2 separate regions of the Homo sapiens genome follow, and region 1 is linked to region 2. Evidence: fine-mapped expression QTL. A gene starts in region 2. The other region holds a variant in brackets. All regions are shown on one strand. Distances are between the middles of the regions.

The links. PIP is the estimated chance that this variant, and not a neighbour inherited with it, causes the effect.
Region 1: its variant is the best candidate, but not a certain one, in a credible set for the expression of SLC67A1 in prefrontal cortex (BrainSeq, PIP 0.67).

The regions. Positions count from the first base shown.
Region 1 is chr11:2,877,019-2,882,491 of GRCh38, forward strand. No RefSeq gene overlaps it. Among named protein-coding and RNA genes, the nearest start is that of CDKN1C, 6.0 kb to the right of the region's middle. The variant C/G (reference allele first, on the strand shown) is at 2,233.
Region 2 is chr11:2,899,263-2,904,471 of GRCh38, forward strand. It overlaps SLC67A1 (solute carrier family 67 member 1), which reads left to right and starts at 3,016. Exons shown (of 11, transcript NM_002555.6): 1 at 3,016-3,102; 2 at 3,952-4,227. The coding sequence starts at 4,084. It overlaps SLC67A1-AS (SLC67A1 antisense RNA), which reads right to left and starts at 4,313. Exons shown (of 3, transcript NR_169305.1): 1 at 4,197-4,313; 2 at 3,322-3,447. RefSeq lists a silencer at 3,148-3,277 and an enhancer at 4,203-4,704.

The DNA.
Region 1 (5,473 bases), 22 kb before region 2:
AGCTCCCAGGGCTTTGCCAGGCATGGGAGTGGGCCATATTGGAAGTTGATTCCTCAACCCCAATCAAACTACTCTAGCTGACATCCCATAACACAGAGCCAAGCTATTCTGCCAACTGTTCCCCAATTTCTGATAGAATCATAGGTATAAATAAAACCACTGGGTTTTTTTGTTTGTTTTTTTGTTTTTTTGAGGTGGAGTCTTGCTCTGTCGCCCAGGCTGGAGTGCAGTGGTGCAATCTCGGCTCACTGCAAGCTCCGGCCTCCTGGGTTCAGGCCATTCTCAGCCTCAGCCTCCCGAGTAGCTGGGACTACAGGCGCCCACCACCACGCCCAGCTGATTTTTTGTATTTTTTTGGTAGAGACGGGGTTTCACCACGTTAGTCAGGATGGTTTCAATTTCCTGACTTCGTAATCCTCCCACCTCGGCCTCCCAAAGTGCTAGGATTACAGGCGTGAGCCACCGCACCCGGCTAAAACCACTGTTTTAAACCACAAAGTGTTGGGATAGTTGTTTACTTGGCAGGAGATCATGAGAACAGGTGTAATCATGCTAACAGAAGAGGAGGTACCGGCTGCCTGTCCACACCCGACTTTATGCCTCAGTGTTGAACAGCAGAGTAGTGGCTGTGATTTGGGGCAGAAGGGAATGGTGAGTACACACAGCTGTCTGACACTGGAGCAGGCAAGCCCTGCCAAGAAAGTCCTGCCCCTGAGGGCTTTCAAGTAACAGCTAAGATCAGAGCGTTTTCTTCCTGGCGCCACTAGGTCATCAGAGGCCATTTTCATTTTTTATCCCAAGGGGCTTGCCCATGGAGCAGAGCTTGGTGATATAATCAATATCTCAGCTGCCCCTGAAACAACCACTTCAAGGCTTAAATAACACAATTTTTAATTTTCAGAATAAGCAATTGCGATTTTTTTTTTTTTTTTGAGACGGAGTCTTGCTCCGTCGCCCAGGCTGGAGTGCAGTGGTGCCATCTTGGCTCACTGCAACCTCTGCCTCTCGGGTTCAAGCGATTCTCCTGCCTTAGCCTCCCAAGTAGCTGGGATTACAGGCACGTACCACCATGTCTGGCTAATTTTTTGTATTTTTATTAGAGACGGGGTTTCACCGTGTTAGCCAGGATGGTCTTGATCTCCTGACCTCGTGATCTGACTGCCTCAGCCTCCCAAAGTGCTGGGAGTACAGGAATGAGCCACCTCGCCCAGCCACTTTTTTTTTTTTTTTTTTTTTTTGAGACAGGGTCTCGCTCACACTGTCGCCCAGGCTGGAGTACAGTGGCACAACTGATCATGGCTCACTGCAATCTCCGCTTCCCGAGCTCAAGTGATCCTTCCATCTCAGTCCCCCAGGGAGCTGGGACCACAGGTGCACACACACCACCAAAGCTGGCTAATTTTTAAAATTTTTTTACAGATGGAGTCTTGCTATATTGCCCCAAGCTGGTCTCAAACTCCTGGGCTCAAGTGATCCTCCCACCTCAGCCTCCCAAAGTGCTTTGATTACAGGCATGAGCGTCCGCACCCAGCCAGGATTTCTTCAGGATGCTAGAGTGTGGGCAGCCAGCTCCATCTCTGAGACTTTGACCCTTCCCCAAATCACAATCATTTTATTCCTTCATCAAAGAAAAAAAAGATGACTTACTAGACAGTTGTTAAGGCACTCACATAAAACTACACGATAGCAGGATAGATGGTAACCAAGAGGGAACTCAGGACCCGTCACTACCAGCTGGAAACACCTGACCTCCAGCCTGCAAATGTGACAAGCTAGACCAACACCAGCAGGACACTGAACACAGCTTGCAGGGATGAGTCTCTGCGTCATTTCTGGACATGTGTCCAAGTAACCAGAACAACTCAAAATGCCACCAGGCCCTTGCTGTCATTCCCATAAACCTCGAACAGTGAGTTGGGTCTTCAAGGAACCTGTCTCTGTCAGCTTACCTTATGCTGCATAACAAACAGGCCCAAAGCTCTTGGCAGCGTACATCAAGCATGGAGGATCTCTCACTCACCACGACAGTCCCTTCGCTGGAGGGCTGGGGTTGTACTCCATTTTCTCTTTTGGAAGGGGCGGCCCCTGTCTGAGGTCTCATTTGTCTCACAGCAGAGGGATGAAACGGCAGGACCCTGGCTTTGACGGGCTCCATTTGGCAATGGTACATGCCAAGTGGGTCACGTTTCACTGCCCAGAGCAAGTTACATGGCCACGTCTGATATTGACGTG[C/G]GGGAAATGCAGAATCTTCCTGCATTTGGGGAGGCAGATATTTGGACAACATGCAATTCATTACAGGGCCAGCTGGATGAAGAACGGCCAAGGGCCCAGGCTCTTCACCCCGAGCCAGGCCGAACCAGCCGGGGCCGTGAGATCAAGCCACGGTCATCAGTGTTCGTTTGGAATTATGCCTTGTCCTTGCCGTGTCCACATTGTAGTAGGGTTTCTGTTTTTTAATTCATCTGAAATTGGTGGTGGGTGTGGTACACAGATGAGAAACAGGAACTCTCCACGCTGGGCTTTAACAGGAGCTGCGGTGGGAACACAAATGGTGCAGCCACTTTGGAAGATAGTTTGGTGGCTCCTTACAAAACTAAATGTACCCTTCACATATGATCCGCCACACACCATCCAGCAATTGTACCCCTTGGTATTTGCCCAGATGAGTCAAAAACTTGCATCCACACAAAAACTTGCACGTGGATGTTGATAGCAGCTTTATTCATAATTGCCCAAACCTGGAAGCCTTCAGGAGGTGAGTGGGTAAACAAACTGTGGTGCCTCCGGTCAGCGGAATATTATTCAGTGCTAAAAAGAAATGAGCTCAAGTCATGGAAAGACATGAAAGAACCTTAAGTATTATTAAGTCAAAGAAGCCAATCTGAAAAGGCTGATGCTGTATGAGTTCACATCTATGACATTATAGAAAAGGCAAAACTACAAAGACAGTAAAAGGATCAGTGGTTGCAGGAGCTAGGGAGGAGGGAGGGATGAATAGGTGGGGCACAGAGGATTTTTAGGGCAGTGAAACTACCTTGTATGATACTGTAATGGTGGACACAGGACAGTAAGCATTTGTCCAAACCCGTAGAATGTACGGCACTGAGAACGGACCCTCCTGTAACCTATGGACTTCAGTTAATAATATTGAACCAAAAAATAACTAACAATAAAACAGTGCTCTTCAGACACCATTACCTGCTATGTCACCTGCTGGGAGCTGGAGGAGGGGCTTCCTAGCCCCTCCTGTTTTAAAGGCTAGGCTGGTGCTTGGCTCAGCTCTGTCCCACCCCCCCACACCAACCACCTTTGTATGCACCACAGCCCACTGGAGGGGTTTTCTGATGTCACCAGTGGAGAAAGCGCCTGCAGCAGGGACTGCTGTCTCTCTATTCATTGCTAAGTCTCTGGTGCCTGGAACAGGGGCTGGCATGCTGGAGCCTCTTGGAGTGTCCACCCAACCCAGTGCCTCTGCCCTCTGCCTGGATGGCCACAGTGTCCTTCTGGTCCCCTCACCCCCTTCCCTCTTGCTGGCGCTCCTCCTTCCTCACCCAGCAGCTGAGATGCTTCTACTACTCCCTGCTTCAGTCCCTCCGGGGCTCCCCACTGCTGGCTGACAAAATCCAATCTTTGGCACCAGTCCATCAGGCCCGGGGAGGTACAGGAGACCAGTAGGACAGGGCAGGGAAGGGGGAGGCCCAGCAGGCACACCCAAAAGACACCCTTACACTGAACCACATGTACGCCCGTGTGCCGGCCTCACACACACCAGCAGGCCAGGCCCACCAAGGCCCCCTGGCACCAGCAGCCTCCCCTGCCTTATCTCTCCTGCCTCACCCTGATCCCCTGGCTCCGACACATTCACCCTTCTCCCTCATCACTTTCATCTGGACTGTCTGTAGGTTAACGGAGCAACTGCCTGTCTTCCCAGCCCAGTCCAGGGGACAGGATAGTGCAATGGTTTCCAGGCCCGGCCCCAGAGCACCCCAGCCCAACATCCCTCTGCCCTGCCAAGGTCAGGAGTGTGACCTCAGGTGGATTACTCCATGCCTCAGTTTCCTCTTCAAACAAGGAAAACAGTGGGACCTGGTTGACGCTGATCCTGCTTAGCATATGCCTGGCACAGAGAAAAGCCATTGCTGTGTGCCTGGCGGTCCTGGTGTCATCGCTCATATGATGGTTGTGGATCCCCAGTGGAGCTGGAGCGTGACTCCCACACGGCAGACCCATGAGTGTGCTGGCTGCCAGCCGGTGCCTGTGTTTTCAGCTTGGATGAGGCCTGGGGGCCAGGACGCACGCTCCTATCTGCTCTTTCCCAACAGCATGGGTGAGAAGAGAGCTTTGCAAACAGTGCCATCAGGTATTATTTCCATGGCTGTCCCCACGTGAGAATCACAGAACACAGTGCTGGAAAAAACCCTGGACGTTTCTCAGCCCAGATGGGGAAACCGAGGCCCCCCAGAAGGAAAGGCTAGCTTGCCTGGGTCACATGTGCCCAGAGTCCCACGTGTGACTAGCAGCCCATGGAGGCTGGTGGCCTGTGCATCCCTGCAGCCAGCTCCTGCCCTGGGGAGAAACTCCTCCTGAGAAATGGCGCTGGGCCTCACCTTCACGTCCCCACAAAGGCCTCACACTGCTTTTGAGAAAGCTACCCTTGAGTGACAAGAGGGTGCTGGGCAACCACATGTCCTGTGCCCAAGGGCCAGGACTGCAAGAAGCTAAGCAAGGTAGGAGCCCCGCCGGCCCCAGCTGCAGCAGGAGGCCTGGCAGCAGATGCAGCTGTGGATGATGAGGCCCCAACCCAGCAGATCGGTCACCACAAACAGTTAACTCAGGTTACGCTGTGCACCCACTAACTGCCTGCCAGGCACCCGGTCCAGCCTCCTCCCAGCCCAAGGCAGAAGGCACTGCCACCCTCCTTTATCTCAGAAGGGAAAAGGCTTTGTCCTCCTCACACAGGTGAATGTGGAGGTTTCTCCCCTGTGGGAGAGGTTGGAAGGCCGAAGCCAGGTCTACATGGGTCTGGTCCCTCATTACCGTCAGCTGAGGGTCCCTGTTGCTGAGCCGAAGCAGCGAGACCTGCCACTCTCAGGTCCCGGGGGCATTTCCCGGAGTCTGGCCCCAGCTGGGCCTCGAGGCCAGGCCCATCACCCTCCCCGCCCAGCCCTTCCAGGCAGCTGGGGGGAGCTCAGTTAATTACATGTCTAAATACATCTCGACCATCTCAAGTTGAGCCCCCCTTTGTCCCTGCCCCCGGTGGAGGTGGGAGGAGGAAGTCAGCAACTGTCACGTAGGGCCCCGTAAGGGTCCACCAGTTCTTTTCTTCTCCCAGCCCAAGGCACCAGCAAAAATACTGCTAGCCGTTCTGTTTTTGCTATTTTACATCACCCTTTCCATTGTAAGCCATAATTTTCAGAGGTTTATAGGTCAGCTATTAAAATAATAAACGTCTCTTTTACTAAGAGGGAGCGCT
Region 2 (5,209 bases):
ACACCCTTGGTCCCAGCCCCTTCCAGTGGCTCAGCTTCCTGAACACTCCAAGCCTGGGCTCACCTCTAAGCCGTTATCTATGCTATTCTCTCAGCCAGGATGCCCTTCCCATACCCAAACAATCCGTGCTCACCTTTAAGACTGGCTGAGGCATCACCTCCTCTGAGAAGCCACCTCTCCCAAACCTGAGCCCAGATGAGCCAAAGCCCTTCCTTCCTCCAGTCAGCCTGGATCCTCTCATCCGGCAGAACTGTCGCCTTGCTTCTCTGAAGCGGTGAATGCCCTGGGGCTGGGGACGCACAGGCTCGCTGGCCCACAACCAAAGCCGCTTCCTCTGGAGGAGGAAGTCCAGGGGTGCCAGGGTTCCACTTGCTTTCTTCTTCACCCAGCCTAAAGGGCAATTTTCCCACATTCCCTCAGAACCAGGAAGTTCCCCCATTCACACTGAGCCTGTTCATGACAAAAAAAAAGGTCTCTCCGATTTCCTCTGCTCAACCAGTTCCCTGGCTACCTGAGGCCCTGCTTCACCTGGAGGAAGACAGTGGTAAGTTTCCAGCATCTCCACCACACCTCAGCGCCAGAGGACCCTCAGCCTCCCTCGCACACCTCTGGGCAGTTTGGTAACTCATCCCATCTCCTCCTGCCGCTTCATCCTCTAAGCCCTCCCCAGGGAACCCAGGAGGCGTCTGGAACCTGTTGGGGACAGTCCCTCACACCTGCCCCATTGAGTAAGGGTTCATGTGGATGCCCATCCTCCCCCAGGAGTCCCAAATCTAAGACACTCTGAGACTCCTGTCACCCACCCCCACCTTACACAGCCGGCCTTTCTGTGCAGTCCTTCCAGGAAACTCTGGCTGGACCTGGGCTCTCGGCTTGACTGCACTCTCCCCAAGTCCCCAGGGCGGCCAGTGGTGACTATTCTTGAAAACGAGCTTGGCAGAGGATCTGGGGACACGCACTCCAGATGCAAACACGTTTGCACTCTTTGGGCTGGAATCCCCTCGAGCGGTACACTGCACCCGTGGGCTTGCTAAGAAACCACCTCACAGAGGGCAGATTGATTGGACAAAAGGCATTTGGTCCCCAAATTGATTGACGTGTGTGAATGGGAGTTTTCAGAACAAAGACCCAAAGATATGGGGGAAACAGGCTGGGCGCGGTGGCTCACGCCTGTAATCCCAGCACTTTGGGAGGCCGAGGGGGGGCGGATCACGAGGTCAGGAGATCGAGACCATCCTGGCTAACACGGTGAAACTCCGTCTCTACTAAAAATACAAAAAAATTAGCGGGGGCTGTGGCGGGCGCCTGTAGTCCCAGCTACTCGGGAGGCTGAGGCAGGAGAATGGCGTGAACCCGGGAGGCGGAGCTTGCAGCGAGCCGAGATCGCGCCACTGCACTTCAGCCTGGGTGACAGAGCAAGACTCCGTCTCAAAAAAAAAAAAAAAAAAAAAAAAAGATATGGGGGAAATTGCCATTTCTGATGCTTAGGCTCAACAAAGTATGGACATCCATGCGGGAACACAGATGAACCAAGGGACCTGCACTAATGCTCCTGGACCGCAAGGGGAAGCGCAGCGAGGGCTGTTGGTCTAGATTTCTTGAACTTTCTGAGCAGCATTCCTTCCTTCTGGGCATGGAGCAGGACCCTCCTGGAATGGGGTCTTATGCCCTACAGTCAAACAAGAGAGGTCAGATAATTTATGGCCAGCTTCTAAACACAAAGGTGGAGGGAAAGTTAGAGCAATATTTTTAGGTTTGATGTCTGGCTGTGTGGAAAGGCGGGGTTCTGATTTCTATGACCTGCCCTGGGGAAAATGGATTCCAGTTTCTAAGGCCAGCTTCGGGGAAAATGGCACTGAGAGACAGGAGAGCAAGAGAAGGTCAGAGAAACACTTTTTCTTCCGAAGCTGCTTCTGAGGCCTTCATTTTGGGGTATTGTTTTCTGATGCCCAACATATCTGAGCTGCTGAACGAAGGGTAGCTGCTGAACCACTCCCACGGTGACTTGGAATGGCTTAGCCAGCCGGCCTTGGGCCACCTGGCTCTGGCCCCCCTGCCCACCAGGACTTTGGCCGGCTCTCGCTCGCCTCTGCGATGTCCGTCCCACCCTGTCTCACCCCTGCAGTTTTCTGCTCTGTGGAGCGATGATTGACACATGGCAGGGGGACACTGGTTTTGACATTTGAGCCTGTGCCCAGCCCTTGCCTGGGGAGGAGGTGGGGCAGGAGTCCTGAATGAGCATCTCCCTACTTAGTGACAGTCAGGGGCACGGAGAATGGTGCCCAGGCCAAGGGCAGGGCTTGGGCCAAGTGTGCGCAGCGTGGGGTGTGTGTGCTCCAGCGGCTCCTGCTGCGGAGGGCGGCATGAGGCTTGTTTACCTGTGTGCTGGCATCTCTGGTGGCCCCTGCAAGGGTGGGGAAGTGGCAGGCAGGGTGAAATGGGGAAAAGTGGGCTCTCAACTGCTCCTAGCAGCCTCCGGGTCTGGGGAGGGAAGTGAGGAGGGGCCCAGAGCTGTCTCCTGGTCACTCTTCTGGGGCTCTGTGCAGACCTTTGGCAGGGCCAGGCTACACCACACCCTCTACAACCTCCCCTGACTTCTTCCCCTAACCCCTCACCACCATTCCTCCGCTTTTCTCTCCCCGCCCCTGCCTCCCCTCCATTCTCTCCTTCCCTCCACCTCCCGGTCCCATCCCCTGCCCACACTGCCCCTCCTCAGGCCCAAAGTGGACACCGGTGCTGCCTGAGGGTCAGAGTGTCCACCTCCAGCAGCCCGGGCACCGGGCAGGATTCAAGCTGGAGGGGGCTGGGGCGGGCGAAGCCGGGCACGGGGCGAGCCCGCTGGTGGGCGGGGCAGGGGCGGGTCCTTCGAGGGGAGGGGCGGGCTCGGCCAGTGAGAGCGCAGAAACCGTGGCACGGGCGCTCCCGGAACTGGCGATTGCAAAGCGCGAGGGCTGGAACTCAGACCCAGAGGGGCGGTCCCTGTTGCAAGTCATCTCCCGAAAGGGCGGGGCCGGGGCTCATCCCGGAAGGACCGGTGTCTAGGTCACCCTGGAGCGCTCACCCCACCGGCACCCGTGCCCAAGCCCGCCCCTGCAAAGGCAGGTACTCGAGCACACTCCGGAGAGGGCGGCCTCTGAGCCCCGAACCCCGAACTCCGGCGCAGCGTCGCACCTCTGCCCAATGAGGTGCCCCTGACGTGCCTGCTGCGGCTGCCCTGCTCCCCCCAGCCTCCCTGCATCCCGGGATGGGGGAGGGCGCCAGGCGCAGCTCCCGGACCCTCAGGGGTCTCCCCGCCCTACCCCACCAGCCTGGGTTCGGTACCTCGGGGCTCAGATGTGCAGTCAGCTGTTAATGTGGCAAAATTTGGGGAAGTCCTCTGCAGCCGCAAAATCCAGTTCCCACCAGTTGGAGGCCGGGCGGGGAAGGGTGGGGACAGACAGCACTCCGCTGTGGGAGGTAAGGCAGAGCTACTGGGGAGCCTGGAAGGCTGAGCTATGTCTCCCCTACGCAAGACCATTCCAGAAGCCCCTTGGAGCTCTGGCTGCTGGCCACAGGGGAAGGTAGACCTTCCCTGAGAGCTGCACTGTGTTGGGGACAGGGCCACTGTGGGCCTACGGAGGGCCTCCAGGCACAGGGACCCACATCAGCCCTCTGGCCACAGAAGGCGCTGATGATTTGAGGTGGACTCAGCCACCACTCCGAGCCTCTGCCTCCCTCTAAAAGTGGGGCATGGCACATTCCTGTGTCAGGCAACCAGGCACTGAGCCTGGCCCACCTGCAGGGGTCGGGGGGAGCAGCTTGTCCCTGTCTCCCCTCCCCGGGAGGCTGTGTGCCTGGAGACCAGAGCTGTCAAAAGTGGAGGAGGGGGACCCCCTGATGTGTCCTCTAAGGTCCAGGTAGCAGGAGAGCTCCACTGGGGAGGGGGTCCTGCAGTGCTGTCCTCTCTTGCAGGCAAGGCCAGGCGGGTGCTGCCTGGGACCCAGTGACTCAGCACCCCTGCCCGGATCAACTGGACTTTTGCCCCCTGCTCCGCCAGCCTCCTGCTTGGATCTCTCCTGGGTCTCCCTGCTGCGCCTGTCCAGGATGCAGGGAGCTCGGGCTCCCAGGGACCAGGGCCGGTCCCCCGGCAGGATGAGCGCTCTAGGCCGGTCCTCGGTCATCTTGCTTACCTACGTGCTGGCCGCCACAGAACTTACCTGCCTCTTCATGCAGTTCTCCATCGTGCCAGTGAGTAACACACCCCAGCCCCTGCAGCCCCAGCCAGGGCTGAACCGCTGTTCCTCCTGCCCTCCATCTGGGCCGTCGCAGAGAGTGGGGGTGGGGGTTTCATGCTGCCAGGGCCCCTCCCAGTTGGGACTCATGCCACGCTTAAGCTGAGTAAGTTAAGGACTCTGCCTCTGGACCCCCGTCAGCACATCCTGTGCTCCAGCTTCAGTGCCAGCCCCGGGAGAAGCCATGGGGAGCCACCCCACTTCCCTCCTGGGGGCAGCACCTCCTCAAACCTTCCTAGCGCTGTTCCTCCTGCCTCTCACCCGGCAGCCTTTGCCCTCTGGAGTCCCTGCCCCAAGGGCTGTTCAATCCGGTGTGGCTCTGGGCGGATCACCCCTCAGAGAGGCTCTCCTTGCACCTGCCCGCAGCTTCTATCTCTCCCCTCCATCTTCTTGGGTCCTTGTTGTCCACTAAATGATCTGTGGCGGCAAATTGATCTCAAGCTTTTTCTTGCAAGAGATAGAATGCTGTCTTATTTTATTATCTCTGTTGCCAAATGCGGAAACATTTCATTGGCAAATTCATGTTAGTTTAGTGTATCATTCAGTAGTCTATACCACAGTGTGTGGCTCTGGAAGCTGTAATAGTAATGATTAAATTATATTCACCAAGTCTGGAGAGGCTTGGGAACAAAGTCTCACATCACCAAGAAGCTCAGGCAGAGTCAGGGCCAACCTCGGCCCTTCCTGTGTTTGCTTCTGGGAAGCCCGGCGTGCGTGGGCTCAGACAGCTGCCCTCCTCCTCTCAGCCCTCAGAGCCTGGACCTGGGCATCTAGGCGGGAGTGGGGATGGGCCTTTGGCACCATTCCGGGCCTGGCAGAGGCTCCCAGCCCGAGGGTGAGCCTAAGGATCCCTCCCCGCCGTGCCTCAGGCGCCCCGCCCACTCCTGCTAAATGGCTGGGGCCAAGCCCTGAATCTCCTCCCTACCCGTGGGGAAGGC